7 separate regions of the Homo sapiens genome follow, and all the other regions are linked to region 5. Evidence: fine-mapped expression QTL. A gene starts in region 5. Each other region holds a variant in brackets. All regions are shown on one strand. Distances are between the middles of the regions. Region 1 overlaps TMEM154 (transmembrane protein 154). Region 2 overlaps TMEM154 (transmembrane protein 154). Region 3 overlaps TMEM154 (transmembrane protein 154). Region 4 has its middle 72 kb from the start of LINC02273. Region 5 holds the start of TMEM154 (transmembrane protein 154). Region 6 overlaps TMEM154 (transmembrane protein 154). Region 7 overlaps FHDC1 (FH2 domain containing 1).

Region 1 (4,068 bases), 53 kb after region 5:
AGTGGGCCGAGATTGTGCCACTGCGCTCCAGCCTGGGCGACGGAGCCAGACTCCGTCTCAAAAAAAAAAAAAAAAGAAAGAAATATATTACTGTTTTGTGTGTGTGTGTGTGTTTTTTTTGTTTTTTTTTTTTTTTTTTTTTTTTTTTACAGTGACAGTGAATCCTAAACCTGAATGGCGCTCATGTTTTCCAAGAGAAGCAGCCCCTGAGGGAGTCTGCTGAGGCTGCCAACAGAGGATGAAGAGGATACAAATTTAATTAATTTCAAATCAACATAGACACAAGAACCTTTTGCTGTTTCTTCCAACGCCCACTCTTCCTAATGATGGCATCACTTGCACTTGGAAGAATGTGCAATTGAGAAGTACTAGGAAAAGGCCTGGCTGCCATCCATCGCTGCCTCTGAGGGTGGAGAAGGAGGCGGGTGATGTGCTCACTTCTGATCAACATGTGTTGCCTCCTCTCAGCCAACTTCTAGCTCACTGAACTCACTCTGGTCATGATAAATGTTCGTCACCTTTCTGCTTCATTCCTTAGGGCCTAAATCAGGAAGCTGTTTTATCGATGGTTTCCTTTTGGGTCAGTAACCAGCTTTGGATAATTTCCTCTGATTATTCAAGTCGTGGGACAGGTAAACTACATTCAGCAGGAACTTTTCTCGAGGAGTGTTATGTCATGGAAAAGACACCAAACACAGCAAGTATTTTAATGAATACACCATCCCAGGGGGTCAGTAAGCTCTGCCTGCCAAGAAGACACAGTGAGAGGGGTCCACAGTCCTGATGAGGTGGCGTTTGGTAACTTGTAGACCCTAGCATGGCCAGGTCTGGTCACCCTTAAGAACTTCTCAGAGAAACTAGGAATCTTCAGTGAAAGAACTAATGTTCTCCTCAGCTGAAATTCCCTTGCTTGTCAGCATTTCTGCAAAGCTCACACTTGTTTCACCATACCTCCCTTGGATGTGACATGTAGGTAGGAAGTATGTGCAGGTGGGAGTCATCTGTCAGCCTTCTATGTTTCAGAGATCCTGAAGGTGGTTTGAAACAAACAGAAGAGGAGCAGGAAATATCCGTGCCTGTGGCAGATCTCACTCATCATGCTTAGCATTCTCTCCCGCCAAGCTGGGATAAGCCTCATGTCCTAACACAGCACAACAGGAGGTCTCTGTCAGTCCATCAGAGATGACATTCTATGTGATATTTTTGACATCCTTGTGCTAAAAGCAATGGCACAAAATGGAAAAGGGCCTATTGACCACACCTACTCCAGTAAAATTGTTCTTCATTTATTCCTTAATTTTCTAAATCTGACCCCTTTAAAGCAATCTAGCAAATTGAGAATCCTCAGCTCTCCTTGGATACCTGATATTTTATTTCAAGAAAGAGACAAAGAAGGAAAATTTTATTTATTTTACTACCCACATATAAACCGAAGGGAGATGGGACTACCCAAACATTTGCTGCTCAATTTTGTGTCTTGTGCTTGAAAGTCTGCCCTAATGCATAACAAAAACTACTTGTCTCCTACCTTTTGGGATCCCTTTAACAAGTATTTGCCTTCTGAACTACGTGGATAATTTCAAAGGCAGAGTTCCAGACCAGAGAGGTCTTTCCATACAATGAAAGCTATAACTAGCTGGTTGTGTTTAACCACTGCTATCACGCTATCCTGGGACTGCATAGAACTTTGACAAAAGACAGACTTCATGGTACACAACTTCAACAGATTTTCTGTCATATTCTCACCAGCACATCTGAATGAGGCTTTGTGTTTTCCTTGCTCTCTTGCATGTTCCTTTTCAACTCATGGCCCACAGTGACTCTCAGA[T/G]ATTTATGCCAAAATTGCATACAATTGTTTTCTGAATCATAACTTGTCTATTTTTCTGCCTATGTGTGCTACTTTCAGTTTGTTTCTCATCAACATTTTGACTCTCAGAAGAGCCTCCATTTGCCCCTTTCTCTCTTTAGGTATCTAAGATCTTTGAACACCTGGGCCTTTACATTTGATCCAACCCTATCAAATAATGAACTTCTCAGAGAGGCATCTGGGGTCCTGGAACTTCATGTTGATGAAGTCATATTATATAATATGATAAAAATATTCTCATGCAGTATTTTAAATAATTTCAAATTCTAGAAGAAGCAAATTTCAGCGACATGTCATTGAGTTTTTATTTGGTAAAGCTATAATTGTGCAGTGTACAAAGCACTTTTTAAAAAGATAGTTTATTCTGTCAGGGTATATGAAGTTAGTATACAGCCAGAACAGCCAAGCCTCAATTCTTGTACCTTGTGTCTTTTTATTACTGTTTAATCAATAGATATCATATGTTTATGACAGTTTCAAGAATTGTTTTTAAACCCAAACTTAATTTTATGTTTCAGACTATTGTTAAAAAAACAAAACAAAAACCAAAAAAACCCTCACTAATTTGCCCTAATTGGATAGGGCAATCAGAACAAAATCTGACTTTCGAATATTTAAAAGATATGTAAGTTTGATTGCATTTTCGTACATTTTAAGCAAACTAGGTTAACAACAACATAGCCTAGTCAAACTTCTCAGGAAACTTGTTTTAATAAATATGTAAAAATACCCATTCATGACTCTTGACCCAATGGTGTGACTCCTCCCTCTGGGAAGGGCTTTGTTACCCAATGCAAGACCACAGCCTGGATCCACCTTGATGTAGGTGGCTCCTGGATAACCCACATCAAACAAATGTGATAAAGATGAGTAAAACTGGTCTTGGGAAAATAATTTCATAGTTTTTTTTTCTCCTAGTTATGCTGTATAATACAGGAGAACCAAAAGCTGTAAAATTATTTTATTTTATTTTTTAAAGACAGGGTCTCACTATGTTGCCCAGGCTGGTTTCAAACTCCTGGGCTCAAGCAGTCCTCCTGTCTCAGCCTCCCAAAGTGCTGGGATTACAGGCATGAGCCACTGAGCCCGACCAGCTGTAAAATTATTATATTCATTTTCACTATGTGCTACTTCTTCTCACCTGACTTTTTTTTTTTTTTTTTGAGATGGAGTCTCACTCTGTCACCCAGGTTAGAGTGCAGTGTCACGATCTCGGCTCACTGCAACCTCCGCCTCCCAGGTTCAAGCAATTCTCTTGCCTCAGCCTCCCAAGCAACTGAGATTACAGGCCTGTGTCACTATGCCCAGCTAATTTTTGTATTTTTAGTAGAGATGGGGTTTTCACCATGTTGGTCAGGCTGGTCTCAAACTCCTGACCTCAAGTGATCCACCAGCCTCGGCCTCCCAAAGTGCTGGATTACAATTGTGAGCCACTGTGTCTGGCCACACACTGACTTTCACTGTAATATCTGGATGTTTTATGTAACATATCTGGGCAATAGGGCTTATGGCAGAATTGGCCCTCGTGGTGTAGGCCTTCCAAGTTCCAAGTCTCATTTTTAGTATTCCTCCGTTCCAACCCCTGGATCCACCAGTTCCAACAGCCTGGATCCACCTTGATATTGACAGCCAGGCAGATGCTTCTGCTGATCACCGCAGCTCTAGCAATGGAAATGGATATGTTAAGAAAATACTTGTCTATTCTTTTATTTTGGTGGTTTAAACTATTAATTCACACCATCTCTGAAAAAAGGCCTTATGTTGACTAAAGAAAACATAGGCTTTAGTTTCAGCTTCTGTCAGAATTAGTACCAATTCTGAATCTGGTGGAGTGATAAGACATGGTTTCATGCTGGGAAGACACTGCTGAAATCCTCCTTGTGGGAGAACATGGAAATTTTATACTGAATTAAATTAACGCATGTGACTTTTCACATTCAGAGACATTCAGGATGAATTCTGGGGTTTCCATTTAATAGCTATAACAGGCAGTCCAGAACAACTTCACATATAGCAGCATTTCTGCTATGTGACAATGACCAAAAGAGTTCCTGTATATTAGTGTCTAGTGGAATATTTCAAATTGCAGAACCCAGACAACCAATTGCCTGAATTATTATTATTTTTTGTTTTTAGCAACTCTTTGGCTTTATCTTGATACTGTCTTGTCTGGCACCAAAGTTTTATTTCCTTCTTAGTCC
Region 2 (4,068 bases), 42 kb after region 5:
CAGTCAGTCACTTGTCACCAGGCAACCCCTGAAGCCTGAGCATCGCGAGGGAATACTGATTATTAGGCAATGGTTGGGGGCAGTCAGATGTTTATCTTCGGACCCTTTTCCTGCGTCTCCCCCCTAAACCTCACTTAAGAATTCACCATCCCAAATCTCTCCTCACATCACACCACCACAGTCTTACTCAGACAAACCTCAGCTCTGATGCCAAAGTCTATACCTATTGTAGATTTAGGTCAATATCACCACCCTAGGCATTTTCATGTTAAGATTATTGCCAGTTCAGGAAGGATTCTATCCTATTTAAAAGAGATTCCAGGTCATGCTTGGTGGCGCTTGCCTGTAGTCCTAGTTACTTGAGAGGCTGATGTGAGAGGATTGCTTGAGCCCAGGATTTCAGGATTGTAGTGAGCTATGATTGTACCACTGCATTCCAGCCTGGGCAACAAGCAAGAGCAAGACCCTGTCTCTAAAAGAAATGGGGAGAGAGAGAGGGAGAGAGAGGGGGAGAGAGAGAGAGAGAGAGATTGATTAACAAGCAGGTGGAAGAAAACAACAATGCCAGGGGGAATATTACAAAGGAATATTTTCCCCATGTTTTGATCTTACCTGGAAATATGTAACTATATATGTCTGGTATAGGGCTCAGATCACTACTAAAACTCCATAAATATCTTAAGTATCTTATTACTCTATCACTGATGAGCAACCTCAATGATGCTAAAAACTACCCTCAGTGGTTTTTACATTCCTGCCTTTTGCTCTTTGAAATTGTTGGCAACATGGAAGAAGCTTAACATTACAGAATTGTATGGCAGTGAAATCTTCTTAAAAATCAGATTTTTGGCCAGGCAATGTGGCTCATGCCTGTAATTCCAACACTTTGGGAGGCTGAGGCAGGCAGATCACCTGAGGCCAGGAGTTCGAGACCAGCCTGGCCCACATGGTAAAACTCCATCTCTACTAAAAATACAAAAATTAGCCAGGCGTTGTGGCGGGCACCTGTAATCCCAGCTACTTGGGAGGCTGAAGCAGGAGAATCCCTTCAACTGGGAAGGCGGAGATTGCAGTGAGCACTGATCACACCATTGCACTCCAGCCTAGGCAACAAGAGTGAAAGAAATTCTGTTTCAAAAAAAAAAAGTCAGATTTTTGAAATAATGAGAAAATGAGCTAGAGCCTTCACATAGTTAAATGATTGTTTTAAAAGGGAAGGTCTACATTCCACTGTGGGTCCAGAGCTGTGTGGCATTCACAGGATGGCTGTCAGGCCTTCACTTTATGCCCTCTCGTAATGCCAGCACCAGCATTCGAGAACCAAGAATGGCAAGTCCCAGATCTTTGTACCACTAGGCACTTTCTGATTACTTCAAAGGTTATTATGATATTGCAAAGTTAATTTTTTATTCATTAAAAAATCTAAGAAAAGTACATTGGATTTAGAACAAAGCCCAGAACAAAGTAAGTTCTCAATAAGCACTGGTTATTGCTAGTATAATTATTAGGAAGTTAGGACTGATGTACAGAAACTCACTGCCTTTATACTAAGACCCAGCTCACTGGATTAAAAAAAAATTCACTTCCTTTATCCTAAGCCTGTATCCTAAGACCCAGACACATCAATACTGGTGGGCGAAGCATTATTTTTGTCCCTGTGTTCCCT[G/A]GTGGTTTCTTTCTGGACCTACCAATCCTGGGAAATCAGGAATTTGTTTGATCTACTATGAGACTTTCAGTTCTCCTTAATTACTGGCATAGGCCCATTAATGTTGGTGATTTCAGAATAGTCCACTTATCACTCTGGAGTTTTTTGGTGTTTTGTTGTTTTGTGTAGAGACAGACTCTCATTCTGTTGTCTAGGCTGGAGTGCAGTGGTGTGATCCCAGCTCACTGTAGCCTCAACCTCCTGGGCCTAAATGATTCTCCCAACTTAGCCTCCAGAGTAGTTGGGACCACAGGTTTGTCCACCATGCCTGGCTAATTTTATTTTACTTTATTGTGGTGACAGGGTCTCCTTATGTTGCTCAGGCTGCTTTCAAACTTTTGGGCTCAAGCAATCCTTCTGCTGCCTTGGCCTCCCAAAGTGTTGGGATGACAGGAGTGAGCCACTGTGCCTCGCCCAGTCTGAAGTTTTTAAAAGGATAGTAACACCTTATAATTTGGATAATCTTTCTTTTCTGTCATAATTTTATGTACATTTCTTTTTCCTATCCTAATGTTTTAATTAAATTGATAATCCATAAAATGTTTACTTTGAGTATCTACCCTGGGACAAAAATAAGATTTCTTTTTTCTCTAAAAGCTTGTGAATTGTTATAGATACAGGTGGAAAGTGCATTTGTGGGTCATTGGACTTAGAAGACTCATTTTAAGACCTAATTTGAATGCTTGTTTGTTCTTTAGACTAAAACAAGTCACTTTAGCTCTCTGAGTTTTAATTTCTTCATCTTGAAAAATGGAAATAAGAACATCTGTCCTTCTAGTTTCACAGGATGATATAAGAGAATGAAACCACCTAGCTAGGTTTTATTTTTATCTTAATTTTTTTTTTTCGAGACTGAGTTTCATTCTTGTTGCCCATGCTGGAGTGCAATGGTGCAATCTTGGCTAACTGCAGCCTCTGCCTCCTGGGTTCAAGCAGTTCTCCTGCCTCAGCCTCCCAAGTAGCTGGGATTACAGGTACCCACCACCACGCCTGGCTAATTTTGTATTTTTAATAGAAATGGGGTTTCACCACATTGGTCAGGCTGGCCTTGAACTCCTGACCTCAGGTGATCCATCCACCTCAGCCTCCCAAAGCGCTGGGATTACAGGCGTGAGACACCGCACCCGGCAGTAGCTAAGTTTTAAAGCACCACGCAAGTGAAACTAATTATTCTTATGCAGTGGCAATTGTTCTTCCCCCTCCCACACTGGGATTTTAAAAGATTATTTTTAGGGCAGTTTTAGGTTTACAGCAAAATTGAGCAGAAAATACAGAGTTCCCATATACCCTCTGCCCTCACACATGCACAGCCTCCCCCATTATCAACGTCCCCCATCAGAGTTCTACATTTATCACAATCAATCAACCTACATTGACACACCATTATCACCCAAAGTTTTCCATTGGCTTTTACCTTGTGCATGATTCTTCCTCTGTCATTGAAGTAGTATACAGGTGAATTTAATGCTTCAGAAAGTATGTAACAGTCATTAAAAATTGAATTTAGTGGAAGACACACTTCTCCTTTCTCCTGATAAACAAAGCCTTCTGGAATTCATTTACAGGGTTCCACTTTCCTTGATGCTAGAAAGACATGCCTGACATAGAACCTCTGTTATCTATTAAGTCCATAGAACCTACGACCACCATGCTTCTGGGAAAAGGGAGTCAATCTGATAACCATCCTACACTGAATATACCACATTGTGTGCAAAGACTTCAACTCTTCAAGCTTGTCTTGTTAGGGTCTGTAATCTCAGGCCTTTCAGAACTTTATCCTTGTCTCATTGGCCAGTCTTGTTCATTACTTTCCTCTGTCCTCATTGAATGGATATTCTTCCTGAGCTATGGAATCCGAAAGACAGCACAGGATTTTAATAAGGACCAGAGATGTACAAAATACTATGAGAAGTGGACACTATGGTTTTCATGTTTGAAAGAAATCAATAGGAAAAGCAACAAAGGAATCATGGGGGAGGGGAGTGTTTCATATTCTTATTTTCCATCTTAGCATCTTTTCCGTGATTCATACCTGCTATGTGCCTGGCACTGCCCAGGGGCAAAGTGTCAGTGGGAGGAGGGTGCTAGGAGGGGTCTGCCCTCAAGTTGAAGAGAATTTCATCCCTGATCTGGTTAAGCATTGCCAACACATGGTAACGACAGAAAACAGATCCTTTTGGTTGGTTTTATTATTGTTTTAACTTCTGTGTAGAAAACACACTCCCTTATTGCCTAACCCCACACTCACAACACCCTCCCAAATGCCACTAGATAGTGGTGCAAACAAGAAAAAGTCCCTTTTATCATGACTCTTCCAATCTAGCCAGCCTCTTCCTTCTTCTGGAGGCATTTGTAGTTAGACG
Region 3 (4,068 bases), 30 kb after region 5:
CCAGCCTGGCTAACATGGTGAAACCCTGTCCCTACTTAAAAAAAAAAAAAAAATGCCATCTAGGACTATTAATAGCTAGAGAGGAGAAATCACTGCCTGGCTTCAAAGCTTCAAAAGATATGCTGACTCTCCTGTTAGAAGCTAATGTAGTTGGTGACTTAAAGTCAATTCTTGTTTACCATTCTGAAAATCTGACAGCTCTTAAGAATTATGCTAAATCTACTCTGCCTGTGCTCTGTAAGTGGAACAACCAAGCCTGGATGTTAGCACATTTGTTTATAGCATGGTTTACTGAATAATTTAAGTCCACTGTTAAGGTCTACTGCTCAAAATACAAGATTCCACTAAAAATATTACTGCTCATTGACAATGCACCTGGTCACCCAAGAGGCCTGGTGGAGATGTACAAGGAGACTAACGTTTTCATGCCTGCTGATACAATATCCATTCTGCAGCCCATGGATTAAGGAGTCATTTTGAATTTCAAGTCTTATTGTTTAAGACATACATTTTGTAAGGCCATAGCTGCCATAGATGGTGAGTCCTCTGATAAATCTGGGAAGGAATCTTCTGGGAAGAATTCACCATTCTAGATGCCATTAAGAACATTTCCGATTCATAGGAGGAGATCAAAATATCAACATCAACAGTATTTTGGAAGACGTTGATTCCAAGACCCATGAATGACTTTGAGGGGTTCAAGACTTGAGTGGAGGGGTCACTGCAGATGTGGTAGAAAGAACAAGAGAACTAGGATAAGAAGTGAAGCCTGAAGATGCCATGGAATTGCTGCAATCTCATGATAAAACGTTAAGTGGCTGAGAAATTGCTTCTTCTGAATGAACAAAGAGTTTTGTTTTTTTTTTTGAGATGGAATCTACTCCTAGTGAAGATGCCATGAACATTGTTGAAATGACAACAGAGGATTTAGAATATTCCATAAACATAGTTGGTAGAGCAGCGGCAGGTTTTGTGAGAATCGTCTCCAATTGTGAAAGAATTCTATTGCAGATAAAATGCTATCAAACAAAGCATTGTATGCTACAGAGAAATCTTTGTGAAAGAGAGTCAATCAATGTGACACATTTCATTGTGATCTTACTTTAAGACATTGCCACAGCCTTCCCAACCATCAGCAACCACCACCCTGATCAGTCAGCAACCATCAACATCAAGGCAAGACCCTCCGCCAGAAAAATAATTACAACTTGCGGAAGGCTCAGATGATCGTTAGCATTTTCTAGCAATGAAGTATTTTAAATTAAGGTATATACATTGTCTCTGTAGACACAATGTTGCACACTTAATAGGTTACATTGTAGGAAAAACATAACTTTTTATGCATTTGGAAACTAAAAAATTAATGTGACTTGCTTTATTGCAATACTCACTTTATTGCAGTGGTCTGGACCTGAACCTGCATATTTCTGGGGGATGCTTTTCTACTGCTGCCATCTTTGACCCTAATCCAGATGAGGATCCTGTATAATTTTAGCCAATAAGCCAGTATAACATTTCCCATCACTGGGGAAAGAGAAAGGCTGATCAAGGAGTGAGTCAGATTAGGGTTAGGGATGGGAAGGCTAGAGGCCTTGGGGTCATCACCACCAGAAGAGCATTCTTTCATCTATATTTCTGTTACAGATTTTATTTTCTCCCCCACCCCACATCCCAATTTGATCTTGAAAAGTCCTGGAGGAAGCATTGTTCTTATTCCCA[T/C]TGAAGCTATGCTAACTTTTATAATCAAATTCTTCAACTGTCTAAAGATTACTAACATCAATCCGAAAACCAATTATAGAAAATTCCCTCAGTCAGAGACCCACTTTGAGAGTATTCAGTTGTGATTCAAGGAGCATCACGTGCTAGGAGTCAGGGTAGTTCTAGGTCTAAAGCAGACTTGGGTACTTTTGGCTTGTGCCAGTAAAACTCGCTCGGATTCGATTTTTAAGTTAAAGCCTTTATAGTCTTTCCAAAAAGTTACTCAAAGGATAGGAACGTCTCTAATACAATACATAGTCATACATGTATACAAAACTCACTTTATGTCCCTCACACCCATGACAGGGCACCTCTGGCTTTGGGGCCATGCCCTTGTCCCACATGCCCACCTCACTGTCTCTGTGCCAGAGGAATCTTTCACAGTCAGCAGATGAGGCAAATGTGAGCTGGGGAAGAAGCCCCGAAGAGTATTTCCTTTCATGGCAGAGGCCCATATAATAGATTCCAAAGAAGTGGGAAATACATGTTTCTCCACTGCTTGAAATTTCAGGACTTCCTAATAACATGGTCATATGGAGGCTTCTTTCTAAGCTTAAGAAAAAAAAGCAAACAGAGCTTTTTAAATTTTTTAAAATTCAGGAAAAGTCATAATTTCCTTCCCCAAACCATGACTGGTTTTACCTAATGGACTCAAGGGGTGGGGGGATGTTGGAGGTATCCACTCACATGGTGAGGCTCTTAGGCTCCAAATCCAGAAATTGATTTTTCATTGAATTTCATTGTGAAAGTCTCAAGGTTCAAAAGCCATTTACAAGCGAGAGCCAGCCTCAACCTCAGACATGGTCCATGCATCCTCCACTCTAACAACACTTGAAGTATTTGCTATTCCCAGAACTTGACTTGACTTTCAGGATGCCTCCATGCCTGGTTGATACCATTTCTTCTGTCTGGAATTTTCTTCCTGTCTGCTTGGCAAACTGCCATCCCTTTTTCCAGGGCCCAGGTCTGTTTTTGTTTTGTTTAAGAGACAGGGCCTTGCTCTGTTACCCCGGCTGGAATGCGGTGGCACAATCATAGCTCACTGCAGCCTCAAACTCCTGGGCTCAAGTGATCCTCCCACCTCAGCCTACAGAGTAGCTGGTACCACAGGCCTGTGCCACCATGCCTGAGTAGTTTTTGACATTTTTAAAAAACGTTTTGTAGAGATGGAGTCTTGCTATGTTGCTCAGGCAAGTCTCAAACTCCTAGGCTCAAGTGATCCTCCCACCTCAGCCTCCCAAAGCACTGGGATTACAGGTGTGAGCCACCACGCCCCCCTGCTAGGGCCCAGTTTTTAGGAAGCCTTGAATAATCCTCCCCTAGGAAAAATTAATTACCATCTCTTCTGTGCTCTCAGAATACTTTGTTCACACTCTTTGTTCACAGTATTCACATTGTCATAAGTTGGTGACTTGTTTCCCTTCCTTCCTTCCTTCTCTTTTTTCTTCTTTTCTTTCTGGGTGATGTGGTCGTTAAGGTCCAGGAGAACCAAGAGCTAGTCTTATTTGTCTTGTGTGACAGTGTGGCATTGAGGTTGAGAGTCCAGACTCAAACCACACACACTGCTTGGTTGGCTTGCACTTCCTGGCACCGTGACTCTCTGATTAAGTTTCTTCATCTGTAAAATGGGCAAATTCAATACCCACCTCATAGAGTTGTGAGAATTAAATGGTTTATATAGGCAAATCACTTAGAAAAAATCAGTACCTGGCATAAGTGCTAAGTGCTAGCTTATTATCATCCCTTTACCTAACTCAACGCCTAGCCCAACACACACTAGCTGCTTGTATATGTTTGTTGAATAAGTGACTTAATTAAAGAACATTAGAATGTTTATTAAAGAACATCTACGCTCAGAGGGAAAGTCAAATTTGTACATTATCCTTACTAAAAATTGGTACATTATTTTTACCTTAAATATGCCTAACTTTAAAAAAAACAACAGAGAAAACTTAGCATTTCAAAACAATTGGCTTATCACAAAAGTTTTTGATGGAGAGTTTTATTTGAATTTTTTTCTCTTATCAGCCAATGCTTTAACACAGACGTGATCACTAACTGCTTAACAGATGGACAACTTTTCAGAAAAACTGAATGCTAAAAGTTAATAAAAGCAGAATATTTACATGAGCAAAATTTGATTTTTTTTCAGGTAAAATACAACTATCATGGAAGGTCATACCAGCGTTTTGCTTGGAAAGCTCCCACAGAAATGCTTTATAGGAGAGCATGGACACCTGCACACTATGTCCCCTGGGAAGTTAGAAGCAGACATACTGTTTCTTACTGCACTTGGGTAGAGCCTGGTCT
Region 4 (4,068 bases), 510 kb after region 5:
GGCATGTAATTACAAGTGTAATTTATATTACAATTATATTACACTTGTAATCCCAGCACTTTGGGAGGCTGAGGCAGGTGGATCACCTGAGGTCAGGAGTTTGAGACCAGCCTGGCCAACACGGCTAAACCCCCGTCTCTACTAAAAATACAAAAAAATTTAGCCGGGCATGGTGGCAGGCACCCGTAATCCCAGCTAGTCGGGAGACTGAGGCAGGGAGAATTGCTTAAGCCCGGGTGGCGGAGGTTGCAGTGAGCTGAGAGCACACCACTGCCCTCCAGCCTGGGTGACAGAGTTAGACTCTGTCTCAAAATAAATAAATAAAATAAAATAAAATGTGGAAAGAATAGTTTAACTGTGGGTTTCTGGGACCCAGGTCCCTCATGTGAGCTGGTGATGTTATTCTTGTGTGTGTCACTTTTCTCTTTGGGCTCCTGGGACTTCCCTCTAAGTGAGAATCATACTTGATCTGTTGGGCTATTTAAGATTGCTAAGGGAAGACTGACCCAGACCTCCTTTGGTGATGGGCCTTACTTCTAGGACACAAGGGAAAGGGGCAGCATTAGGACATCTTTCTTCATTAGCCACAGACACTCTGGGTCTCGGCACAGTCAGGACTGGTGAATGGAGAACCCGAGTCATTTGCCTGAGCCCATACGCATGTTCACATGTGCCAGGCGAGACATCTGATGGGGTCAGCTTGTCACTCTGCAATATAGAGCACCTCTATTGGGGTGAGTTGGTGCCAAGCCACCTCAGAGGTGGTTGGTCACTCTGGTGAGCAGCTTGCATTGGTTGGGGCACTAGTCCTGGGTATCATCAGTTGTGGCCCAGGTGGCATGAATGGTCCACTAAATAAAAGTATTAATACAAAGCTGGAGACAGAATGCTGTGCTTTAGGAAAGTGTTCCTCTAAAGGGGGTTGAGGGTGTGGCAGGTCCTTACCACACCATGGATTCTGCTCTAGAATACTCCTGTGTAGGGTAGGTGAGCTTTGGGCAAGACACATAATTGGAAACTCCAGATGGCCTAGGCGGGTGGAAAGGATGGCAGGGGATGCAGAGAAGGAAGTTCATCTCAGCTGTTACCACCTTTGCCTTTTTGTTCCTACCTCTGGGTTCTGGAGGCCCCCTCCTCACTCTAAATCCCTGAGCCCTGGCCCCACCTCATTCATAAGGAGGTTGGTGACCAGATGAAGCAGGAGCACACTTGGAGACCATTTTCATAGTGGGCAAGCCCTGGACTCTGCAGGTTGCCATTGCAGTCTCACCCTGTGTGTCCTGGTAGGAATATCCATCCACCTTTGCAGGCTTGTCTCAGGCAGGAGAAGCACCACTATCAACAGCACCAATGAAGGGAAGGCCAGGAGGGCAACTTTACAGAGAAGCACCTTTTTAACATTCTTTTGTGAGAAGTTGGCTATAGCTTGTGATAAATCCTGGTGGAAGGAGTAGAGCATCTGGAGACATTGGGAAAGACTGCTGGAAGCCCAGGTTTAAATTTTTGCTTGGCTCTCTCTTGACTGGCTGTGAAAGTATTGGAAAATCACTTTACTCTTTTCTCTTTTTCTTCTCTTCTCTTTTTTGTTTCTTTTCTTTCTTTTTTTTTTTTTTTTTTTTTT[G/TG]AGACAATGTCTTACTGTGTCGCCCAGGCTGGAATGCAGTGGCACTATCTCGGTTCACTGCAACCTCCACCTCCCAGGTTCAAGTGATCCTCCTGCCTCAGCATCCCAAGTAGTTGGAATTAGAGACACACACCACCACGCCTGGCTAATTTTTGTATTTTTAGTAGAGACAGGGTTTTACCATGTTGGCCAGGCTGGTCCCGAACTCTTGACCTCAAGTGATCCACCCGCCTCAGCCTCCCAAAGTGCTAGGATTATCAGAGTGAGCTACTGTGCCCGGCCCACTTTACCTTTCTGATACTTAGTTTCCCCATCTTTAAAACAGGAATAATAACCTAATCTTTAAAAAATGTGGTAAACATGAAATGAAAATTTGTCAGGAAAGCATTTTGTAATCCTAAAATGCCATCCTCATGTTTTGTTTCCATTTGTTACTTTAATCATGTTGCTTTTGCTCAATATGGCAGAAAGGTTTTTTTTTTAAATGCAATATTGCAATGCCTCCAGGAAAAATAGGAAAAAAGATAAAGGCTAGAATATCTATTACAGATACAAGCTAACATATCAAGATAACTATCTGGATAATATTAATCCCTTCTCTTAACTAGATATTTGAATCTCCATTTGGTAGTTAATTCCCCCAGGAATCCCATCAAACAGAAAATAATCGAATTAGAACTTCATTTTGTTTTAAAGTTTTCATCACATTCTCTGTGGGTTGTTGCATGTTACAGTGAACATATGGGAGGTTGCATGTAGCATTAGTTAATTTTTGTTAAACACCTTGAAGAGAAGCAACTATGTGAACAGTTGCTAAATCCATATATCATACATGTGTATGACTCTACTCAATGTGTATAAATAAACAAACCGATCTAATTTAGAGTTGACATATAAAAATTGGTAAGGGATGTCACAGGCTAACATCAGTGGAGGCAACATGATTTTTTAAACACTCTTTTAAAACGTTCTGCCCTTTCTCATGGGTAATTTGTCTGTCACGTCCTGATGTTCCAGTTGTCCCATTGGCTCTGTAAGCGGCATCAAAGGCTGAATTTCCCTGCAGGCGAAGGCACGGAACAATAATCCTCTGTGCAAACAGCTGCTTTGTTATGCTTGAGGTAAAAATTGTGATGATGGCAATGTAAACTCAAAAAATCTCCAGCTTGATTTGAAAAATCTTGACAGGCTGTGTTGCAGAGGTCTCTGGTTTGCTGTATGGAGAATCTGCATGCTGGGTCTCTCAGTTTGTTGGGGCTGCCATAATAAAGTGCCACAAGCTGGGTGGTTTGAACCACAGAATTTTTTTTCTCACAGTTCTGGCAAATAGCTGTCCAAAGTCTGAGTGTCAGCAAGGTTGGTTTCTTCTAAGGCCTCTCCTTGGCTTATAGAAGGCTGTTGTATTAGTCAATTCTCATGCTGCTAATAAAGACATACCCAAGACTGGGTAATTTATAAAGGAAAGAGGTTTAATGGACTTACAGTTCCACATGGCTGGGGAGGCCTTACAATCATGGCGGGAGGCAAATGAGAAGCAAAGTCACATCTTACATGGCAGCAGGCAGAAGAGCTTGTGCAGGCGAGCTCCTATTTATAAAGCCATCAGATCTCATGAGATTTATTCACTACAACGAGAACGGTATGGGGGAAACTGCCCCCATGATTCAATTATCTCCATCTGGCCTGCCCTTGCCATGTGGGGATTATTACAATTCAAAGTGAGATCTGGGTGAGGACACAGCCAAATCATATCAGCTATCATGTCCCTGTGTCTTCACATGGTTTTTTCTCTGTGTATATCTGCATCCTAATCTTCTCTTCTTATAAAGGTACTAGTCATGTTAGATTAGGGGCCACCATAATGGCCCCAATTTACTTTAATTACCTCTTTACAGATCCTGTCTCCAAATACAGTCCCATTTTGAGGTACTGGAGGGTAGGTCTTCAATATGTGTATTTGGGGTGAGGGATACACAATTCCACCCATCGCAGTGGGGGAATTTGTTCTTGGTCCAGGGTATCTATTCAGCCTGATAAAAACTTTTTTTTCCCCCAGTTTCCCAAATACTTGCTTTGTCCTATAGCTTATATTTTTAAATTTCCAAAACCACTTCCAAATTTTTTCTGGGGCTGGTTCTGATAGGATGGAAGAGGGTTTCTCTGTCATCTAAAGACTGTAAAGAAGTTATGTTTGGCCTCAGTGCAAGCTGGCGAAAGAAGATCTGAAAAACGAGGACACTTGGGAGTTGATGGGAAATGACTTCAGCCTGAACCGAACTCTCAGGCCCCTGTAATCACTACCAAGTCCCTACAGCTGAGTGGCTACTTGAATGGCTACCCAGCAACATCCAACAGAACATTGTGCAACAGTGGGAATGTTCTATATCCGTGCTGTCCAATACAGTAGCCACTCACCACATGTGACTACTAAGCACTGCAAATGTGAT
Region 5 (4,068 bases):
TGGAGAGAACTCCCAAGCCCTGGGCCTGCTTTCTTGCACGTGTGTGTCACAGCTGCAGAAACACGTGCTTGTACAGGAATAATTGCCACCCCAACTCAGTACCAGCAGGTCTTGGAGCCCGTGATCTATTCACATGCTCAGCAAGTGTTTAATTAATAGTTCTTTCTCTGTTGTTTTCAAATCAATCACCCAGTTTTGAGCACGTCTATTTTCTCCTGCTGTTTGTTCTGTATTGTCACCTGTGGTGCAAAAAGCATATTTTATCAAGAATTGACTTAATTGCCAGTTTAAAACATTAAAGTGCATACTGTAAATCCATTAACAAACTGATCCTTACATGAATCACCAACCTATTTCTTGTGAATAATAACTGAGATAAACAGTGACTAATGACATTGAAAAGCAGCAATGCATTAAAGAAAAATTAACAGCTATGTCAGGGGCTAAGGAATTCCAGTCACCTCATACGTTTGCACCAACCAGATCACTGAAGACAAACGACGGGAAGTCATGACTCAGATGGTGATCTGCAGGGAAAGGTTTAGAGATGAGATGTGTCTGATGCCTCAACACTACCCCTCTCTCCATCTGTCTGTCTCTCTTGGCACCACGATTATGAAACTGCATTCTGAATGCTTAGGCCCTAAACCTAAACCAAGGGAAGGACCTCCAATAGAACACCCAACACACACTAATCTCCACTGTATACTAGACACAACCTTTCTGTATTGTTTCGATTGGATAGGATTTCTACCATTATTCTATTTCGTTTCTGTCCTGTTTTGTTTGTTGTCTGAGAACTTGATTGTCAAGTAAGAAGGAAGGAAGGTGAGATGCAGATTCACCCCTACCTCCACCCTCAGAGCATATTCTCCTTTGGAAATGGACCTTGAAAAGATCATTTCTCTCTGGGGAAGCAGAACATAACCTTAAGGTGTGGGTGTGGCATCCACCTCCATCTGGCGTGGGCCTTGGTGGGAGGAGGGCATTCCAGAGTGGAGAAAGGAGAATGGACCTGGCGGAGAGAAGTGGTCTGGCAGTTTTCTGATGATGCAGTTGTCCCTGCTGTCTGGGCCTGCGCTATCCAACACAGCAGCCACTAGCCACTTGGAGTTATTAAAATTTTATAAAAATTCAATAAAATTTAAATTCCATCAGCACTAGCCTCAGTTCAAATGCTCAGTGGCCAATGTGGCTGATACTGTATCAGACGGCGCAGACTTGGAACATTTCCATCAGGGCAGAAAGTTCTACAGGACAGCTTCTTCCTAGGGTCTAGGCAGCCCCGGAGCCTCACCTGGGGGATAAGCAAAATCACAGAGTGAGAATGCGTGTGGTCCAGGACCCCTCCCAGTCCCAGATACCGAACGACATCTGAGCAAGGGACTCTGTTGCCCCGGGGACGGTTTCAAAAGCTGGAGGCCGGGACTCCAAAGGGCTGGAGAGGCGTGATAATAGAACCAGTGCTTCAACAGCAACTTCTCTTTTGCAATCCTTGCTGGTCTGACAGGCTCCTGCAGAATTACATCACTTCCTAAAAAACAGGCACACACCTCTCCTTCAAGTCAGCACCGACCCAAACAAGCAGGAAACAGGAAATGTTCACGTTTCAGAGAGGCTGCAGCCCGGCGCAGCATCCTGAGCGCGCCTCTGCCGAGGCGAGCGGACATGCAGGCTCCCCGCGCAGCCCTAGTCTTCGCCCTGGTGATCGCGCTCGTTCCCGTCGGCCGGGGTAAGCCGCCTCCACTTCCTACTCCTGGGAAGGAGGATCGCAAAAGCTGGTAGGGTGCCCGAGGCTACAGAACTCTGCCGGGGAGGGTGACACCCAGAAAATCTAATCCTTTCTGTGAAAGAAGTGGAGAAAATTAGAACTCCTTTTTTTGGGGGGTGGGATGGAGAGGGGACTTCGCTTTCGCTGCAGCTGTCTAAACTGGCTACAGCTCTCACTTCATTTAACCCTCTTTCAGTCTTTGTCTTCCAGGAAGTGTGCGTCCCTGTAATTTACCAGCTTTAATGGGCATATTAAGAAAACCATAAACTTTTTGGCAGTTTATGTAAAAAAAAACAAAAGCTTCAATTGGCTGAAACAGAGACATGATTAATTTGCTTTTTATGGTGTGGGCTGAGAAGTCTGCTGATTCCAAAATCTCCTGGAAAAACTGGGGTGTGAAAATTTACTACTAGAAAGCATACTAAAGAAACGACATAAACTTAAAAAAAAAAAAAGGAAACGGGAAATTATCCGAAGAGCTACCAAAGAGCTATGTGTTAGAGGGTAGCCCTCTAACACATCAAGTAAGGTCTTTCATCTACTTTTATTGCACCTTGTTACTTTTACAGATTTTTTTTTTGCATTGATTGTTACTAATGAAGATTTGTTTGAAAAAGTAATATGATTGGAACCAATCAAAGGTATTGGAAAAAACAATATTGAATCTCATTATTATGGGCTAAAAGCAACAACTGATTTACACCCTTGCCAGTTGCTACAACAAGCACAAGCACCTTCAGCTGCCTCTCTTGTTGACTTGCCTTTGGGCAAATACACTGGCTGCCCATTGTTTCTGTCAATGAACACCGACTGCTTCTAGTGTAGGGCAGTATTTACCAAGCAAAAGGAAAGTTCTCAAGCTACAGTTCTTTAGATAGAATGAGGGACATCAGCCCCAACCTAACAGATGTGACAACTTCCTGGAGGTCAGCAGCCAGCACCCAGCCACCCCACTCCATCAATTTCTCTTCCCCTGGGTGTTCTCCATGTGGTCCCCCAGGCATCTGAGGTAGAAAACAAAGTGGAAGGCAAATCATTCCAGCTGAAAAGATGTCTGGTTAAATTGAGTTTAGTGTTCAGAGTGGGTTTGGAAGTTGATGTGTTGTTTTATGCCCAGTGTTTTGGAGCTGGAAGGGAACTTGAAGATGATGCAGCTCAAACCATATTGGGCACACAGGTGAAGAAACAGAGGTGGAAGAAGGGAGATGTCTGGGTCTTGCTGCTAGTCAGCTCTTCTGGCTTCTACTCCAGAGTTCTTTGAGCTCCTCCACCCCCCACCACCACTGCCCCCCTCCCCCCACCGCCGCCCCGGAACCAATCACTGTCTCTGCCAAGAGCTCTGGAACCTTTCGTAGTAGGACATCAGGGAAGAAAAGCCTAGCCATCCTCCTTCCACCTCTTCTATTGCACAACACTGCCACAGGTGCCTCAAACACTCCCTTAATACTAATTCATCTTGCCTGAACTTTTTTTTTAGCTTCTAAAAAATGATTGAGTCCTAGTGTCTGCAATTCAGGAGATGCAAAAAGAGAATCTGAAGAGACTTGGTTAAAGTTGCCTTTCTGACACCTGAATCTGATCGTGCACATCTTCCCCCTTAAGGACCCCTCATTTATGCCCCTTCACTTGTTCCTCATTTTTGCCCCTTAGACTCTCACTGCAACCTCCTTCCCAGTGGCACCTCCTTCCAGTTGTCGTCCCCCTCCGTGGCTCTTGCCTATAATGAATACATTCTTTTTCCTACCTAGCAAATTCTTGTATCACCTTAAAAGTATCAAACTAAATGTGATCTCCTCCTTGATGTCTCCTTTCTCTGCCCCTTCCCTGGAGCTCTACTCGTACCTGCTGCTGTGCCCCGATAGACCTAAACTTCTGCTAATCACTTTGAACCATAATTGTGTCCATGCCTCCCAACTGGCTGTGAACAGCTCCAGGGAAAATCCTCTGTAGTTCACCTTTGACTTTCCAAAATCCTGTAAGGGCTCAGCATAAATGAGAAAATAATTGTTGATAAATATGAAAATCATCCCTAGAATGGATATGAGGCTGATTACAAAAAAAACTGATAGCTCCTGAAAACAGGTAGTGTTGGAATGTAAAGAGAAGTCAAAGATGAAAAGTTGCATTTCAGTAGAGTGCAGGGATTACCTAAATAATCCAACATGCTAATTGGGCCCTGCTGGGATTCCCAATGTCTGAAAAATGCCCACTTGCAAAAAGCTGTTGAATAAAAGCTATGACTTTGAGATGATTCATCATGGAAAAGGTGATTTTAAATTAAAGATTTTTAAAATTAA
Region 6 (4,068 bases), 36 kb after region 5:
CTAATCATTTATTCCACTGATATTGACTAGGCATTTACAAGGTACTGTGGTAGCTGGCTCAGAGCTGAGGGGATACCACGATAAATAAGACAGACACGATCCCTGCCCCTTTGTACTTTGTCTAGTGAGAGAGACAGACAGAAAAAAAAAAATCAAACAGACGGGTTGACCAATGAGAAATTGTGGCCAATATTATGAAAGATGCAAGCAAGGTGCTGAGCTGGGGAGCAACAGGAAAGATGGGCCCTTCTTTAAATAGAGTAGGTGGGGAAGGCCTCCCCGAGGAAAGAGTATTTAAGCTGGGACCCTGAAGTTGTGAGGGATCCAGCCATGCCAAGAGCAGGGGTAAAAGGAAAATTCCAAGGGGAGCCCTTGATGGAAGATCCCACATCCTCCACCAGGAGTGAGGCACAGTGTCACAGTGTTCAGCATGGTGTATCACAGGAGATGAAGCAGCAGCCTTTAGATCTGGGACATTTTACTGAAGGAGGCCAAGGAGCAAGCCCTCTTGTTTCACCCTCCCTTGCCTTTCCTTACCAATGTTTTCCTCTTCTTGTGGATGTAAAAAATAAAGACGGATGAACATCTGGTCTGAAGTGAGCGTTCTCAGCAGACCATCCACATCTAAAAGAAAGCAGATTTCACACGGATTAGGACCTCGTTTTAATATGGCAATCCACACTTCTTTGACTCTAAGTTAATGATCGCTCCTTTAAAAATGTTACTTAATGTCATTTTGCTCTCTTTGTAAAGGAGACTTCAGCTGTTGTTGAAATTAAAAGTTGTTACAGAAGAACAAAGCTAACATGACCTTTATGTTCATTTCCTTTTAGATGAACTGGGAAGTGAAAACGTGAAAGTGTAAGTTTTCCCTGCTGCTTCTGATCCACCTGGGGTGTGAACAGCAACTGTTAAGGTGGACAGCTGCCTTTTCAGGTGTTTTTGTTCTGACATCTTGCGGGACTCTCCTGCTTCCCAGGCGGGGTTGGAGATCCTTGGCAGCCTGAGGGAGGATGTGCTGGCATCCCCAAACCCTATCCAGCGTGTGAGTGTGATCTGGGCAAAGACAGCTTGGCATCTGTTTTATTTCATTGTCCTACATTCAGAAAAGAATCCTGACTGCTACCAATTTCAAGTGCATAGCAGTTAAATATTCTATCCCTAGCTGTATTTCAAGGACATTGGTTCATTTACTCTGATTAGAAATTTTATCACCAGGAAAGATACTTGAGCTGGTATTTAGCAGGGAGCCCTGGTCGAAGCAGAAGTTCACACAGCAAGAACCCCCAGGGATGGGAGAGAGAGAGGAGGAGAAGGGAAGAGTGGGAGGAGCAGGAGGAAGGGAGAGGAGGGAGGGAAGGAGGGGTGGGAGAGAGAAAAACAAGCCTCCACTCAGAAGCATGTTCTGGGGTGATGCCATATCCTCCCCATCTTCCAAGCAGCCTCCTGGTTTAGAAACTTTATCGCTTCCTCTACGCAGTGTACCGCCTACGCTGCTTTCAGAGCTGGTGGTCCATCCTTCCCCAACCCCATCTCCACTAACCACGGACTCTGTCCCCTGACTGTGCACTTTGAGCTTCTGCAAGTGAGGGCGGTGAATTTCTGAAAGCAACTGCTCCATTTCTCCAAGAGAGAAAGGCCTGGGAATTGAAGGGACAGGTGATAACTGTAGCCTGTTGACAGTGGCCTCTTGACCTGGGGCACTGATCAAAAAACC[C/T]CAAGGAACAGGAAGTGAAATTAAGCAAGGCTAAAATGCTTCATATGGCAACTCCCCGGAAGGGCCTCACCCTGGGAGCCTTGCAGACTTGACTTTGCACCTTCAGGGGAGCAGTCAGCCTCCTGGGTTCCCTTTTTTGTCCACTTGTTGGGCCTGTGGGCACCCCACTTTTGGACCTGTGATAAATGTATGTTTGTTTGTGTGGTAGCCTTTCTTCCTATTAAAGTTTGGTAGTTTGGAATAGGGCAAGCCCCCAGGCTTCCCTAGAGCATAAGGCACTGAATCAAGTTCATCTTCCTCAGGATCAGCATTCTAGTCTCTTTCCAAATGAAATTAGGCATCTTTCACATTTCTTTCTAACAAGTCTTTTGCTCTCTATTTCTAGCCCTATTTTTGAGGAAGATACACCCTCTGTTATGGAAATTGAAATGGAAGAGCTTGATAAATGGATGAACAGCATGAATAGAAATGGTATGTGGTAACCTAAAGTTGTTTTTTTTCTTTCCTCTCTAGTAACAGAAGGCTGCAACAGCTTTATAAATATCTCAATAAATCCTGGAGTGAGACAGAAGAACCCAATCCCACATTAGATCTGGTACATGCAGATAATAAACCTGGTCTGACAATACTTAAATATTCAGCTTAATTGTTGCCACTTGTTTTTATTTCTGTACAAGTTGTTGAAATGGTCTTTTTGAAGCAGAAAATGGTATTTTATTCAAGAAAGGAAATCTCTGAGGCCAAATGATCTGGAAAAAGTTAGCATCTGGCATTACCTTATACATTACAGAATTTAAAGATCTACAATTTTAAACTGACTATGGATATAAAACTTTATCAAATGTAGTATCCATAGATCTGTGCTGTTCAACGTAATAGATAATCACCAAATGTGGCTATTTAAATTTAAATTAATTAAAATTAAAATTAAAAAATATTGAGTGTTTAGTAGCCAATGGCTACTAAGTGGACAGTGTAATGTAGAATATTTCTATCACTTTAGAATGCTCTATTGGACATTGCTCATGTAGATGGTGATATACATACCCCATATAACAATTTCCAATTGATATCTGGCAGTAATGGAAGTATATGTTCCTTACTTTTTAGTAAATCAATAATGGGACTTTAAAATGATGACAGCTGCTTTTTCTTTTTCAAATTCCCTTTAAAAATTAATTATTTTTACTACTTAGATTAAATGAATAAAACCCAGCATTATCATGTCATTTGTATTTTTTACCATTTATCTTAAAAAAATACCCTAGGGTCTGTCAAATTCAACACTCTACAGTAGAGTTAGAAAATTCAGAGACTGGTTATAAGAACTATTACTACCAGGCCAGGCACGGTGGCTCACGCCTATAATCCCAGCACTTTTGGAGGCCGAGGCGGGTGGATAACCTGAGGTCAGGAGTTCGAAACCAGCCTGGCCAACATGGTGAAACACCATCTCTACTGAAAATACAAAATTAGCTGGGTGTGGCACATGTCTGTACTCCCAGCTACTAGGGAGGCTGAGGCAGGAGAATAGCTTGAACCCAGGAGGCGGAGGTTGCAGTGAGCCGAGATTGTGCCACTGCACTCCAGCCTGGGTGACAGAGCGAGACTCCATCTCAACAAAAAAAAAAAAAAAAAAAAAAAAAAAAAAAAAAGAATTATTGCTACCAGAGGCTTATCAAGGTGTGATTTCAAAAAAGAGCCACTCAGCTAACTTGTACAATTTCTAACAGTTTTTCATATTGAGGAAAGAAGGACTCTGTAAAGCCATTCTATTTGAGGATGGGGCGGGTCATTGAGATAGTCCTTCAGGAGTCTCGTTTTGTTGTTTTTCAGTTGCTAAAAGTAATATGCATACATAGTAGAATTTGGAAAATGCAAAAAAAAAAAAAAAAAAGGTAGAAGAAAAAAATTCACCACAGAAAGGCAATCTCTTCTTGCTATGTTGTTGTATTACGTTTTGTGCCAGAGATTTTGTGAAATATAAAATCATGATTCTGTCATACTCACTAAAACCAGAAAACTGGAAAAGGCATTTCTATTTGACAACTAAAGCTGAGTTATTTTGACACATAGGTGATAGAATCAAAGAATTTTTTTGCCCTTAAAAATAACGAGTGGTGTAATAGAAAAGAACTCATGACCATAGGAAGATCAGCTGTTTTCCCACTTTACCCAATTCTTTCCTACCGTGCAATCTGATGGAAATCATTCTGCAGACACGTTGGAACCTCAGGCGAAGCCATCTTATTCCACTGTCTATCCTGAGACATGCAGATTCTAGCTTTTGGAGCACTGGGGTGCTGCAGGGACAGAATAACCAAGCAGTGATGAATTGTGTCCTTTCCAGT
Region 7 (4,068 bases), 270 kb before region 5:
CCCTTTAAAAGGTCATACCAAAAAAGGAATCTCGATTTATTAAGACAGAAAACTGGGTTCATTAGAATTAATAAATTAAAAGGCCATGCATAAGAATCTGTATGTTGATATAGTTACACAGCACGTTCAAAGAACTTCCTCTGCATTCACCTAGGATGGATAAATGACTTGTTTCGTATTCCTTTCATGAAAGTGCCACCTTCTGCTACATTCAACCCTTGACTGCAGTGCTCTCCCACACCCCACGTGAACCAAGCCCCACGCTCATCCTGTTCACCCCTCAACCCTCTGGGACTCTCTTCACTCAGCCTAGATCCGGAGACATTGCTGCAGGAAAAGTGAAGGAGAAAATTACTCTTATGATCTCTACTGGACAGGTAAGGAAACTAAGCCTCATAGACATCATTTTATAACTTTCCCAGAGCAGTGTTGAACTGATAGGTTAGCCTGGTTCTCTCTGACTCCTTTTCACTCTAGTTTCTGTGGGTTTTCACATTACTGAGCTTCCTATAGAGACGTAGCAAACGTTCCCTACCAGCATGGTGCTTGCATTGTGAGTTTTCTCCAGGAATGGGGACAGATGTGTAAGAAGCTATACGTGTGCCTGGCCAAGTCCCCTGGTGACCCCAGAGCTGTATCTGAGAGATGACAGATGGGAATCATGTTCTCCCCAGGCAAGAGAGCCTCCAGGGGCCTGAGCCCTGGCCCTACAGGAGCAGCCCACGGTGCCCCAACACAGGGGCAGCCCAGCTGTAGAAGCAGGCGTCTCTACAGCTCAAGCTGTGTTTCAGAAACAAAGAGAATTGGGTGATATTCCTAAGGGAAAACCCGAGCTGGCTGTGACTGAGCACCTTACAGGAAAAACAGAGCCCAGCACTTCACCCAAACAACATTAAAATGAGACAACTGATATCATTCAGGGACAGTCCCACTCGCTCCCGGCATCCTCAGATTTGCCTGGTGTCTGAGGAGTCTCTTTCTCCACTTTATCGCATTCGATCCTTCCAAAGCAATGTTATAAGGGTGACTGTTGAAGTCCTTTAAAGAGGGTTATCACTGCACATGTAAATTAGCTTATCTCACTTCCCAAATGCTTGCTCTCTCAAAGCTGGGCCATTCAGAAACAAAGTCGGGTCGGGTTGGGTGGTGTTTTGGAATCATTCAGAGCAGTGGAATCTGCACATGGGATCCCAGTGGGACTCACTGGCTGCACAAGCTGACAAATCAGAGGCAAGAAACTGCCCAAAGAAGAGGGATAAACAAACCCAGCCAATGAGTGAGCTGCATCATCCCCTCCCTCCCACCAGCTCCGATCAACCGGTAATTACTCCTCTGGTCACACCAGGACATGCAGGCAGGACCGCCACAGAAGTCGGTGCCACGGGTACAGTCAGCATACTGCAGAGTTCGTTACCTCTTCCCCCAAAATTCCTACCAAAGAGTGGCAAACAAGGCAGCTTGAAATATAAGGTAATGAGGTAATTAACGCACTCAACTCATTTCAACATTTCAAGGATTTCCTGCTAGGATGCGAAGGGGGCCTGGGCTCTACTCACAGTTTCCCCGCAACTGCCAGGGGGCCAGGGTTGTGCTGATACCCACTGAAACAGTCAGCAGCACTATGCCACTCAGTGAGACATGTGGCTACACCATCACTCTTGCTAAAACCTCCAAATCAGCTCTTCTAGTTTATTCTACTACAACTTTTGTAGTTTCAATTCACTTCATCAATCCACTACAAAATCTGCCTCCCATATCCTTTGAAGGAAGAAGAAACTTTTTTTCAGTTGTGGTAAAATACAAATAACAATTGCCATCATAACTTTTTATTTATTTATTTTTTTAGAGACAGGGTCTTGCTCTGTCACCTAGGCTGGAGTGCGGTGGTGTGATCATAGCTCACTGCAGCCTCAAACTCCTGGGCTCAAGCAATCCTTCTGCATCAGCCTCCTGAGTAGCTAGGACTAGGGATGCATGCTGTCACACCTGGATAATTTTTAAGACATTTTTTTGTGGAGATGAGGTCTCACTATGTTGCCCAGGCTAGTGTTGAATTCCTGGCCGCAAGCTATCCTCCTGTCTTGGCCTCCAGAAGTGCTGAGATTACAGGTTTCAGCCACCATGCCTGGTCCATAACCATTTTCTTCTTCTGCTTCTTCTTCTTCTTCTTCTTCTTCTTCTTCTTCTTCTTCTTCTTCTTATTATTATTATTATTATTATTATT[A/G]TTATTATTACTGAGACAAGGTTTTGCTCTGTTGCCCAGGCTGGAGTGCAGTGGCACTATCTCAGCTCACTGCAACCTCCAGCTCCTGGGCTCAAGCAATCCTCCTGCATCAGCCTCCCGAGTAACGGGGACTACAGGCACGAGCCACCATGTCTGGCTAATTTTTAAGTTTTTTGTAGAGATGGGGGTCTCACTAAATTGCCCTGGCTCCATAACAATTTTTAAGAATACAGTTCAGTGGCATTAAGTACATCCACATTGTTGTATAACCATCACCACCATCCATCCCCAGAGCACTTCATCTTGCAAAACTGAAACTTTGTACCCATTAAACAATTAACTCTCAGCCCAGTGTGGTGGCTCACACCTGTAATCCCAGCACATTGGGAGGCTGAGGTGGGCAAATCACGTGAGGTCAGGAGTTCAAGACCAGCCTGGCAAACATGATGAAACCCCATCTCTACTAAAAAATACAAAAAAATTAGCTGGGCGTGGTGGTATGTGCATGTAGTCCCAGCTACTCAGGAGGCTGAGACAGAAGAACTGCTTGAACCAGGAGGTGGAGGTTGCAGTGAGCTGAGATCATGCCACTGCACTCCAGCCTGGGTGACAGAGGGAGACTCCATCTCAAAACAACAACAACAAAAAACAATTAACTCTCCATTCCCCTCTCTCATTTCCTGGCAACCACCATTCTACTTTCTGTCTCTATGAATCTGGCTACTTAAGTACTTCCTATGAGGGAATCATACAGTATTTGTCCTTTGCGACTGGCTTATTTAGCATAATGTCCTCAAGGTGAAGGAAGAAACTTTTAAACCACTTTTGTTTTTTATGTCAAAGGGGGCTTCTTTACCTACTTGAGTAACACTACATAGTGGCTATTTCCATCCCACTTCAAGTCCTGAAAAACAAAAATGTGAAGATCTTCCTCTATCCTCCAATATGGACCTAGCTTTCGGGTTTTGATGGTTTTTCATTTTCTTTTTCACTTTAGTTGGCTGTCAATTGGAAATTGTCCTCTCTCCCAACTTTGGGGAAAAAAAAATGAAAATCCAGTTGAAGCACATTTTTTCCCAAATGTATTTGAAATGCTCTATCTAGTTCTACAGTTCTGGACTGTGAGCATATCCCGAAATTCTGGAACATACCGGCATCATAACAAAAGGTGAGAATGACTGACAGCTGAATTATAGTGTGGGAGAATAAAGTATTTATTACTTGTCATAAATTTAGAAAAACCAATCTTCCTTCCATCCTTCCCTTCTCTCTCTCTCTCTCTCTCTCTCTTCTGTGGTCTTCTTTTTCTAATTAGCCACTTTACTTATTTCCTAGATGGTCAATGTTATATTGCTACAGACATCATAGTGAATGACCTGAGGTGTTTCAATATTTCTGCTTTCTTTGTGAGCCCCAATTTTGATCTGTTGATGCCTCATAAGCTGATCCCTTTGTGCTCTTGGTTCAGTTCTGTCCAGTTCAGTAACCTTTTGTTTCCTTTAGAGGATACCAAATGGCTAAGATACAGCCCTCCCCTTAAGAGCTGGTCAAACTGTAGAGGCAGACACGCACACCCTCAGCTAACACTGGTGGAAGGCTCCCAGGGGGCCTGAGGAATGTCAGTAATAGAGGGTCAGGAACTACAGAGCTTCTCAGGGGATGGGATCAGCCAACTCTGAGAAGAAGATGAGTTTGAGCTGAATCTCTCTCGTCTCATCCCCAGTAATATGTCTTTATTTCTAATTGCTTTATTACAGTTTAATTATTATTATACCATCATATCTACAGTCTCTTTGAGTTAATTTTTAGTTAACAAAGATACAAGGATAGTAACATTTCATATC

What was found. PIP is the estimated chance that this variant, and not a neighbour inherited with it, causes the effect.
Region 1: its variant is fine-mapped to the expression of TMEM154 in whole blood (TOPMed, PIP 0.99).
Region 2: its variant is fine-mapped to the expression of TMEM154 in whole blood (TOPMed, PIP 0.96).
Region 3: its variant is fine-mapped to the expression of TMEM154 in whole blood (INTERVAL, PIP above 0.99).
Region 4: its variant is fine-mapped to the expression of TMEM154 in whole blood (INTERVAL, PIP above 0.99).
Region 6: its variant is fine-mapped to the expression of TMEM154 in whole blood (TOPMed, PIP above 0.99).
Region 7: its variant is fine-mapped to the expression of TMEM154 in whole blood (INTERVAL, PIP above 0.99).

What each region holds. Positions count from the first base shown.
Region 1 is chr4:152,624,646-152,628,713 of GRCh38, reverse strand. TMEM154 (transmembrane protein 154) reads left to right here. Exons shown (of 7, transcript NM_152680.3): 7 at 153-4,068. The coding sequence ends at 168. Among named protein-coding and RNA genes, the nearest start is that of TMEM154, 53 kb to the left of the region's middle. The variant T/G (reference allele first, on the strand shown) is at 1,829.
Region 2 is chr4:152,636,031-152,640,098 of GRCh38, reverse strand. The region is part of intron 6 of TMEM154 (transmembrane protein 154); the gene reads left to right. Among named protein-coding and RNA genes, the nearest start is that of TMEM154, 42 kb to the left of the region's middle. The variant G/A (reference allele first, on the strand shown) is at 1,667.
Region 3 is chr4:152,647,170-152,651,237 of GRCh38, reverse strand. All of the region lies in intron 3 of TMEM154 (transmembrane protein 154), which reads left to right. Among named protein-coding and RNA genes, the nearest start is that of TMEM154, 31 kb to the left of the region's middle. The variant T/C (reference allele first, on the strand shown) is at 1,720.
Region 4 is chr4:152,170,961-152,175,028 of GRCh38, reverse strand. No RefSeq gene overlaps it. Among named protein-coding and RNA genes, the nearest start is that of LINC02273, 72 kb to the right of the region's middle. The variant G/TG (reference allele first, on the strand shown) is at 1,622.
Region 5 is chr4:152,677,534-152,681,601 of GRCh38, reverse strand. It overlaps TMEM154 (transmembrane protein 154), which reads left to right and starts at 1,605. Exons shown (of 7, transcript NM_152680.3): 1 at 1,605-1,732. The coding sequence starts at 1,669. It overlaps LOC105377495 (a long non-coding RNA gene), which reads right to left and starts at 1,517. Exons shown (of 4, transcript XR_939359.3): 1 at 1,298-1,517; 2 at 929-1,015; 3 at 462-527; 4 at 1-239. RefSeq lists enhancers at 1,522-1,831, 1,142-1,971.
Region 6 is chr4:152,641,208-152,645,275 of GRCh38, reverse strand. It overlaps TMEM154 (transmembrane protein 154), which reads left to right. Exons shown (of 7, transcript NM_152680.3): 4 at 834-861; 5 at 2,103-2,188. Among named protein-coding and RNA genes, the nearest start is that of TMEM154, 37 kb to the left of the region's middle. RefSeq lists enhancers at 788-847, 1,993-2,062. The variant C/T (reference allele first, on the strand shown) is at 1,718.
Region 7 is chr4:152,947,257-152,951,324 of GRCh38, reverse strand. All of the region lies in intron 2 of FHDC1 (FH2 domain containing 1), which reads right to left. Among named protein-coding and RNA genes, the nearest start is that of FHDC1, 13 kb to the right of the region's middle. RefSeq lists an enhancer at 1,114-1,408. The variant A/G (reference allele first, on the strand shown) is at 2,225.